Regions from separate parts of the Homo sapiens genome. Here region 1 is linked to region 2. The links come from fine-mapping of genetic effects on gene expression. A gene starts in region 2. The other region holds a variant in brackets. All regions are shown on one strand. Distances are from middle to middle.

The links. PIP is the estimated chance that this variant, and not a neighbour inherited with it, causes the effect.
Region 1: its variant is fine-mapped to the expression of ATP10D in pituitary (GTEx, PIP 0.92).

The regions. Positions count from the first base shown.
Region 1 is chr4:47,540,697-47,546,085 of GRCh38, reverse strand. The region is part of intron 9 of ATP10D (ATPase phospholipid transporting 10D (putative)); the gene reads right to left. Among named protein-coding and RNA genes, the nearest start is that of ATP10D, 58 kb to the right of the region's middle. The variant G/A (reference allele first, on the strand shown) is at 3,156.
Region 2 is chr4:47,482,431-47,487,819 of GRCh38, reverse strand. It overlaps ATP10D (ATPase phospholipid transporting 10D (putative)), which reads right to left and starts at 2,545. Exons shown (of 23, transcript NM_020453.4): 1 at 2,301-2,545. RefSeq lists enhancers at 2,373-2,442, 2,414-2,708.

The DNA.
Region 1 (5,389 bases), 58 kb before region 2:
TTTTTCCTTCTTGAAATGTCTCTTTTGGTTTCTCTAACATCACACTTAACTGTTTTTCCTCCTACTTCAATGACTGTTTCTTCTTAGTTTCTCCTGCTGTCTCTTCTTTTTAGTCCTCAAATACTGGAGAGCTGCAGAAGCACCTTCCTTCTCTACCTGCATCTTCCTTGGTGATCTCAACTGGTCCCATCTTTGAAATGACCTCACTGGGAAGTGAAGACTTCCCAGATCTGACCACACAATTTATAATAGATCCTATGCCAAGACCTACCACCATCTACACATATATATCTTATTTATTTTATTTTTTGAATCATCCAGTAGAATACAATCTCCAAAAGGTCAGAGAATTCTGTCTGTTTTGCCAATATGATAATCTCAGACTTCAAAGCAGCAGTTGATAGGTACTATCTTTGTAAATCAAACTTAACGACTTACACAGTTACTTAAGCCAGAAATCTAGAATCCTCCTAATTTCCTATCTTCTTTCTTATTTTCAAAGTATAACTAACATCTGTCCTCCATACATCCAAAAAATATCTCAAATAACTCTACTTCTCTCCATATCCATTACCTTAGTCCAAGCCACCATCATCTCTCAACTGGACCAGTGCAATAGTCTCATAACTGGTCTCCTTGCCCCTCTGCAATCCATTTTTCAAATAGTAGCTAGAGTGATCTTCCTAAAAGATAAAGCAGATCAGATCACTTCCTGCATAAAACACTCCAGTAGCTTTACAATTCACTTAGAATAAAATCTGGACTCCCTATCCTGGCTTAAATAACTCAAGATGATCAGAGCCCTGCTGACCTATCTAACTTCACTTCTCTTTCTACATGCCCACTAAAATCCAGACTCACTGGCCTTCTTTCTTTACTTTGAAAAGTAACAAGCTCACCCTTGCCTGAGGGCTTCTTTACTAGATGTTCCTTCTGACTGGAAGCCTTTCCTACGGAATTTCAAGATTATGTCATTCAGATCTAAGCCCCATGTCCCACTTAGAGAGGCCTTGCCTGACCCTCCAGTTCAAAGTGGCCATCCAATCATTTTATATTATACCACCTTATTTTAATTTTCTACCAAGTACTTATCGCTAATTTTTTTCTTGATTTAAAAAAGTAATATATTTGTGAATATTTTCTCTAATAGAAACTCTATGAGAGCAGGGGCCTTATGTGAATTGTTCAGCATTGTATCCAGTGTCTGGAATATAGACCATCGATAAATAGGTGCTTGTTGGATTGCCAGTCTTCTCTATTTAGCTATAGGATAAAGTATGGCTTTGGGTAAGTTATTCTATGAAGTGAAGAATGTTTGCACATTCTATTTTTTTGTAATAGTTTTTGTCTGTATTCTTTAAGGACAAGGAGAGGCTAAGGGTCTATGTGGTGATCCTAGGTTCCAGTACCAACTTTTTCAAAGACTAAGTGGCTTTCAGCAAAATCACTTGCTGTTTCTGGGCCTTTGTTTTCAGAATGAAACATTTCAGAATGAACGATTTGGATTCGGTGACTTTAAGATCTTTCCCAGCTCTGCAAGTCTCATCATATAATCTGCCTAAACAACACGGAATGTTTCCCAGTATGACCTTCCAGCTTCAAAAACTGGTTTACATATTGTGTCCCAGAGATTCTGATCTCCTCCATTTTCATCTATGCCTTTGCTTGAAATATTCATTTGCGTCCTTTCTATTTACATAAATACTGAACATCTTTAGAAGTTTAGTTCAAATGCCAGCTCCTCCACAAAGACCTCTGTAGCTATACTGACTCTTACTCATACCACTCATTGGGAATTTATAGATTACATGTGCAGAATGTACCAGGCATTTGCTTATGTACCAGGCACTTGCCTCATTTAATCATTATATCTCAGCAGATGCTATTAATACCAGCATTTTACAAATAAATAAACTTAAGTAATTTGCCCCATCTCACAAAAATGGTACAAATTAGTCTTAAAATCAGTTCTATTAAACTCCACAGCCCCATGCTTTACTGTTTCTGAATCTACCTATATATGTTAACAGGGCCAATTTTTAACACATGGCCAATATCCCCTGCTTAATTTCAATGAGTCCATGTTTTTTCATTTAAATAAAAATTTATTAAATGAATAATAAATGAATGAATCAATAGACATGTCAATGAAATATCCCTAGTATTAAGGGAAAGTTGTGGGGTAGGAAGTTAATATTTTTTGAGATCCTCCTTTTTTCATGCATATATATATGTGTGTGTGTGTGTGTACATAATATATATGTATACCTATTTCCTTTTTATCTTCAAAATAATGCCATCAGGTAGAAACTATCACTGCCCACTCTGCAGCTGAGGAGATTAAGACCCAGAGAGATTAAGCAGTTCAACCATGATTAAACAGCTAGTTGTGGGTGGAGCTGGAAATTCGATTTAGGTCTTCTGCCTCCAAAGCCAGCACACTACCCACTATATTATAGCTCCTCAGCAGTGATTTGTATATAATAAGTTGGCTCAGTGGTTCTCCACATGGGGTGAATTTGTCCCCTGGGGGTTTGGCAATGGCTGTAGATACTTTTGCTTGTTATAACTGGGTGAAGTGTGCTGCTGGCATTCAGTGGGTGGAGGCCAAGGATACTTCTAAACATCTTACAATGCTCAGGACAGCCCCCAACAACAAAGATTAATCTAGCCCAAATAGTGCTGAGACTGATAAATCCTTGAGTAGCTCAAGGAATTTATTGATGACGTAACACCATTTAAAAAATATTTTAAAAATACAGAAGTTTCCCCTTTTTCACAGGGGATATGTTCCAAGACCCCCAGTGGATGTCTGAAACCACGGATAGTATTGAACCCTAAATATACTATGTTTATTCATATACATACATACCTATGATAAATGTTAACTTATAAATTAGGCATAGTAAAAGATTAACAACAATAACTAATAATAAAATAGAATAATTATAACAATATACTGTAGTAAAACTTATGTGAATGTGATCTCTCTTTTTCTCTCTCAAAATATCTTATTTTACTATACCAAAGGTAATTGAAACTGTGGAAAGTAAAACCACAGATAAGGGGGTAATACTGTACTTCAAAACACATATAAACATGGAGGCTATATTTAATGATCGTGTAACTCCTAGCCATCATTAGGGAAATCAGTC[G/A]TCATGCAACTATATAATTAGTATAGTTCCAGGTAGCTCAGCTATTACTGTAGGGAAAACTTGTTCAGTCAGTACAATTGCAAAAGTGGAATCAAGAAGATATGAAGTGACTCAACCTTTAATCATTTTGTGGAAGCTATGAAAAGGAAATAGGCCAGGCCCGGTGGCTCAGGCCTGCAATCCCAGCACTTTGGGAGGCCGAGGTGGGTGGATCACCTGAGGTCAGGAGTTTGAGACCAGCCTGGCCAACATGGCGAAACCCCATCTCTACTAAAAATACACAAAATTAGCTGGGTGTGGTGGCGGGCACCTGTAATCCCAGCTACTAGGGAGGCTGAGGCAGGAGAGCTGCTTAAACCCAAGGGGCAGGGGTTGCAGTGAGCCAAGATCGCACCACTTCACTGCAACCTGGCGAGACTAGACTCCTTCTCAAAAAAGGAAATAGACCAGTAAAGTTACAATGTGATTCAGAAAACAAAGCTACTGGAGCTATAATTCCAGGCTCAGTGAGAATTTTATAAAAATTAGGTGTGAAGCCAGGTGTGGTGGCTTACACCTGTAGTCCCAGCACTTTGGGAGGCCGAGGCTGGCAGATAGCTTGAGCCCAGGAGTTCGAGACCAGCCTGGGAAACATGGCGAAATCCTGCCTCTACAAAAAATACAAAAATTAGCCATGCGTGGTGGCATGTGCCCATAGTCCCAACTACTTGTGAGGCTAAGGTGGTAGGATCACTTGAGCCCAGAGGGTTGAGGCTGCAGTGAGCTGAGATCATGCCACTGCACTCCAGCCTGGGTAACAGAGTGAGACCCTGTGTTAAAAAAATATATTGTATGAGAAACAAAGGTTTATTATAATATTGATAAAACTTATCCAAATCGTTATGACTTTTAATATTTCTTAGTATTTCTTTAATATTTCTTAATACTTACCTTAAGGTAGACTCCAAAATAGTTACATGAATGCCTCAAAGCAGGGCAGGAATTCTTACTTTTTGCTTCATAAGAAAAAACTTACAAAGTCTATTCTTTCCTTTGTCTGAAGGTAGATATTGAGATAGGTACCAAATTGTCTACTTTATTTCTCTTCATTATTTAATCCCCGATCTGTCTTTTCTTCCCATTCCCCTCTTCAAATACCCAGTAATCTTCCTATAGCCTGTTACTTGCATCAATTTGATATATGGAAGAAGTGGGCATGAGTCTACAGAACAAAAAGTTTATCATACTTTCAATGTGCTCTCCAAAGGGCCCGAAACAAAGGTGAACAGCATTCAGATGAGCTTCCTTCAATTGTATCATCAATCCTCCATCAACCCTTTCACTATGAACTAAATCTGCAAACATTTCCAGCATTCCAACTTTTGCCTGCTTGTAAATAACACACTCAGCTAAACCTCCTCCAACTGTATCACCCATATATCCTTGATATATAAACCTTTGTTCTAAACAAATTCCCCATACAATTCCAGCATCGTAAGAACATCCAGTATCTTGGCTTCAACATCCCAAGCCTTAATCAGTGCAAAATCCACCTCCAATACTGACTGCCTGAAAATCAAAACAAAATGGAACAAGAACACTGACTTTATATCTTATGACAATGAACATGATAATTTATGTTTACATATCTGCCTCCCACATCGGACCATGAGCTCCTTAAGAGATAGGCCTATTTCTTATTTTAACAATATTTACAACAACAACAACAGTAACAACAGCTATATTTATAGAGAACTCATTTTGTGCCATTTGCTGTTCTAAATTCTTTATGTGAATTATCTTCTCTCATTCTCTTAACCATCCAATGAGATAGATAGTGTCATTGATCCTTTTTATTGAGGCACAGAGAAATTAGATAGTTGTTAAGGGCCACACAGCTTGTAGGTAGTGGAAATGGGATGCAGACTCAGGAGGCCTGATTCCAAAATCCTTGTTCTTGAAAAGTGTTCAATGCTACTGCCTCCATGTAAATCAGATTCACAAATTGTGCATCATAAATGTATACTCTGGACAAGCCCAAATTGATGGACATTCTACAAAATCCCAGAATAATGCCACTCAAAACTGCTAAGTTTATCAAAAGGAAAGAAAATCTGAGAAACTGTCACCTAGAGAAACCAAAATGATGGCTGTTATGCAGCATCCTAGCTAGGATCCTGGGACAGAGAAAGAACATTAGGTAAAAATGAAGGAAGTCCAAATAAAATATGGGTTTCAATTAATAATAATGTATC
Region 2 (5,389 bases):
TCAAATAGTTGTATTGATATACCTTTTATTGAGTAGCATTAAAAAAATTCCATTAAGGCCACAACTCTTTTACAAAACTAGCATCACTGTTAGTCCTTATTCTGCAAAGCGATAAAAAAGTATTGTTTCTATGGCTAAAATGATTTCTGAAATGAAATAAATTTATCTAAGAAAATATCGAAGGAATAACTGACGAGGAATAGTGATAGCATCCAGCACACATATATTTATTCCTAGAGTTGATAAATCAATTCTCCTTTTCTTCAAGCACTATTAAATTTATATTTATCAGTGCATTGTTCTGTGAGAATTCTCAGACAATCTTACTTGTAGCATTTTCTTTGATTCTTCTTCATTAGAAGAACTACTTCCAACTATATCAGACAATAAAGAAAACATGTAATGAAGGCTTGAATATGTGTACATTTTTTTAACCCTTAATTTAAAAAGTCAATTATAGGAAGTACATTTGTCTGACAGGTGAGTCACCTCTGTTCTATTATAAATTATAATCATATTTGAGCATTTCCCTTCGTTTTACTGACAATAGCAAAATAAATGAGATTCTATTTTTTTTTTTTTTTTTTTGGGGGACGGAGTTTTGCTCTTGTTGCCCAGGCTGGAGTGCAATGGCCCGATCTCGACTCACAGCAACCTCCGCCTCCCGGGCTCAAGCGATTCTCCTGCCTCAGCCTCCCGAGTAGCTGGGATTACAGGCATGCACCACCACGCCCAGCCAATTTTGTATTTTTAGTAGAGACGGGTTTCGCCATGTTGGTCAGGCTGGTCTCGAACTCCTGACCTCAGGTGATCCGCCTGCCTCGGCCTCCCAAAGTGTTGGGATTACAGGCATGAGCCACTGCGCCCGGCCCTATTCAATTCTATTTAGTCACTAAGTATGAAAAGTATTCAGGTTTTGCTAAGCCAGGGTCAAACACTCCCCACATCCTAGTTTAGAGTGCTTAGATTTTCCCTCTTTTTCATGCAATTTAATGAATGTTAAATTAGCATGAAAATTAAATGTTATTTTTAAACTCCCTAAAACTTTAAAATGTTGCTAAGTTATTTTTCCAAATGTATAAAATGACCTCATTTTAATAAAAATAAACTATCTCAATGTAGGTATATGATACGTATTTGTAGTGAGAATAGAAAACAGTCCAGAAGAAGCAGTTATTACTTTTTGAGGTGGATCGGAGTGGGAGGTTCTTGCTGCGGGCACTGAACAAACTACTCCGTTGCAATGATTTTTGCTCTTCACAAGTCAGCAAGGGTTTTCGATGATGCTATTCTTCACAGAAATGTGACCTACATGATTTAAAGGCTGATACAAGTAAATATTGGTGGATGAGGAGCCCCTGTCCTTGTTGATGCATCTCTCAAGGTTGATTTTGAGTTAGAGGTTTGCTCTGTCCATACAGACTTGTTTTTCTCCCTGCTTAGAACCAGCATGAAAAGAACGCAAGAAGAAACTTTGGTCTTATTCAGATCACATTTTAAAAACCTGAGCTAGCATGATAAGAGCAGTTAAAACATATTCTTTCTAAAGGCACAGGGTCCCAGACACCAAAATAACCATCCATTCCCTAACCAACTGATGTCTCTCTGCTGTACGTGGTAAATTAAAACTACATGTTTTACAACGTAAAATAAAGGGTGCCCCGAATAACAACTAGGTTCTTTAAAGTTAGTGTTTTGGGGGAAGCATGGGGGCTTCTTTGTAGCACTCCTTTGAAAACTATTTCCGAGAAAGCTCCAATACAAACACCTTTTTCTTCCTAAGGAATCAACCTTAGGGAATCAACCTTAAGGAATCAATCTGCTGGGCTAAATCTTCAACACCTTCCCTTTTCATCACCTTTGAGGCAGATAACCAAAATTTCTTTAAACTGCTTATTTCACAACGGGATGACAAAGGAGTGTGTGTGTGTGTGAATGCGTGTGTGTGCGTGCCCGTGTATGCCCGCGTGTACAAAGGTGTGTGAGAATGCGTGTATGTACGTGCCCGTGTGCGCCCGCGTGTGCAGTTTACCTTTTTACAAAATCCAGCATTTAAAATAGATTTTTAAATTCCCCTTTAACAAATGATTGAAAATGGTGTAATCATTTTATCTTTTGTTGTTTTTTTTTTTTAGTTCAGTAACAGCCCAGAACTGTAGTTTTGAGCCATGTCATCAAATCTAAACACGACTAGGGAAGTGGAGCGGGGAGAAACAGGAGAGAGAAACAGAAAGGAAAAGCGGGTGGGCGGTGAAGCAGAAGGCTGGGACAGTCAGAGGGATTCGCCGTCTCACTCTTACCAATTCCTCCCTCGGCACACATCACAGCATGTTGGTCACGAGTCGCAAGGTACAAGAAAAGAGCTAAGCACAAATTCGAAGAGTGAAAGCGGGTTGTGCTTCCACGCCAGCCATTTGCCTTCCGGGAAAAAAAAAAAATCACTTAGACATCTCCCAAACTCAGCTGCGGGAGCCAGCGCCGGAGCCTGTGCTGAGCTCGCAACCTACTTCTCCCTCCGCTCCTCCTCCCGTCTCCGCCAGGCTGCAGAGCAGCCCGAGCTGCAGTGCACCGCCAATCGCCCACCGCCCCGCCCTCCGTGACGTAGCAGCGGCAGGGCCTGGCAACTGACCGGCTCCCAGCTCCAGCTGTTTGACCGAGCTGCCCTTCTGCCCAGCGCAGATGCCCCAGTGACCCAGAGCCCTTACAATCTCACCTCTGACTTTCACCTCCCAAGTACAGGTTGCTCGCGGTTGACGGTTTGGTTCATTGTTTTGCTGCAATTCTAACAATTCACTGTTTTAGCTAAACGTGGAACACTGGACAATTATTTTTTGGAGGGTAAAAGAGATCAAATCTAAAAATGTCGCGCCACTGCATTCCAGCCTGGGCGACAGAGTGAGACCCTACCACAAAATAAATAAATAATATGTAATGTTACTGTTTTTATGACTAGAAAAGAAATGAGGAAAAATATTACAATTCTGATTTGGTCGTTTTCCTCACACCTTGCCCTTCCGTTCCCTTACTCAGGATAATGTGGCTTTGTCCATACACCTGCCAAGGTCCGTTTGCTTAAAATTCACAACTTTTTTTAAAACTTCTAAATAAGTTTCAACAACCTGTCTGGTTTCTCAAAATGTCTAATTTGGAAAGAGGAAAAGCCATTTAGTGAAGGCCGAACCAATAACTCAGAACAAAACCTAATAATCTTGGCTGCCTGTTTTATCCCATTGAAACAAATATAAAAAGTGGGGCCAAACTCTCCACAGCTCTCCTATATTGTGCCTCTCTCTTCCATTCTCTCAAGTGTTTCTCAGATGTGCAACAAGAGTGAAGAAAACTAAATGAGCATGCAAATGTTTGACTATTAGTAAAGAGCTCACCAGTACAGACACAGGGAGCTGGTTGGTCGGCTTGAAAATTCTCTCAGACCAAGAGAAGCCAAACAAGTTTCTGCACCCACTGAGAACGTGCTTCTGCCAGACGAGGAGAAACAAGTTCTGGGTGTGGCTTCCTATGATGCTCCATTAGGGAAGCCTCCATCTGCAGGTAAGGACAAATCTCTAGAACTTAGTCAAACTTAATCCCCAGAATTAACCCAGCCTAGTAGAATACACTGTCATTTACATGGCCTCTGAAATTCCTGGCCCTAGTAGCACTTTTTGCAGTCATATGACTGTCTCTAACATCCTTTAAGATGAAACACATTTCCTATCTGAGAGTCAACCTTATAGAGGAGACTTAAAACTGTAGCTGGGCCCCCCTGAGCTCTCCCAATCAAACACTGGTGTTGTTACCTCAGCAGAGGGCCTTCCTGGGAACGTACATACCAGGACAATTCAGGCATGTAGCCTGTTTGGATTGCTTAAATCAGTGGTTCTAACTAGCTACACATCAGAGTGAACCGGGGAGCTTGATGCCAAGGCCCCACCCAGGCCAATTAAACCAGAATCTCTGGGGGTGGCGCTATGGCAATGTCTTTTTTTCAAGCTCCTCTAGAAATTCTAATGTGCACAAGGGTTGAGAATCACTGACTAAGATTTGAATTATTGTCTTAGAAGAAAATCTATTATATTTAAGTCTAAAGAGCATAGTAGTAGAATAATGGAAAACATTATGTAATACAACTTAGCCTTATACATATTCTTTATATATTGGTTTATTTTAATATAAATATAAAAACGTGAAGATACACCTCAAAATTGTTTACTCAGGGAAGGATAGTGAGGGGAGATTACTAGCTTTCTATTTGTGTCTGTCATTTGAATGAAATTTGTATCATTTTGATAATTTAAATATTTCTAATCAAATTTTTAAAAATCAATACTCATAAATACCATGAAGGTCATTGGAATAACCACTATTAAGGTGGGTTTCTATCAATTTATTAGGTTTTGTTGTGTTTGGTGTTTTCTTTTTGCAATGCTTCTGTAATATCCAATTTTCTCCTCAGAGTGATTCCTATTTTGAAAAAGACAAAATACGATTCTTAATTTAAGACATTAGCTACTTTAAATCTATATAGTAATTTTTAATTTAAAAGATACTTACTTTCTTGTAATTTCAGAAAGGTTTTCTTTTTTGCACTTCTCAGGAAGTTTTTTAAAAAACCAATATTTCAACTGTATAATATAGAAGTGAGGGAACTTCATCTTTTCCAGCTAGAAAATTATTTGGACTCTCAACACTAATAACTCTCAATACTTCATAATTAATTGTCAATGCGAAATATATGGCACAGTAGTCAAATGCCTAGGTTTGACCTGGTTTTAAATCTTGGCTCTGCAAATTTTTAGATATGTGATCTTGGGTACCAACACTAAGCTCTGTAGGTAAAATGGATCTAATAATATCTTCCTCTGTGTTATTAAGACTATATGAAGTTAGGTAGCTGAAGTGCTTATCACTGTGTAAAACACTTAATAGGTGCTTAATAAATGATAATTATCAATTTCCTAACTTCTCTTTTTCCTTTCTTAAACATACTCAAGGATTATTAGTATGGCAGCAGAAGACAGAGTTATCAGAAAACATTTTTCTAAAACAGTAAACAGGGTTCTTCCTAGAACCTATTATATTTGTTATACAGTTATATGTAAAAGAGAGACATATTCATTATTTCGGGCTACTGCTTTAACATGTAACGTGTAAAGCAGCGTGGTTTACTTTTGTTTACCTCAAAATATTTCACATTTCCTAAAGTGGCACACAGGCTGATTTCTTATGATTCATAATCAACCACTGCTTTTTCTTTGTACTTGTTATGAGTCAAGCACAGATTAGGACATTTCCCACGATCAGTTTTCTGACTGACTTTTGGAGAAGGAGAAGGAGGAGGAGGAGGAGAAGAAGAAGAAGAAGAAGAGGAAGAGGAAGAGGAAGAGGAAGA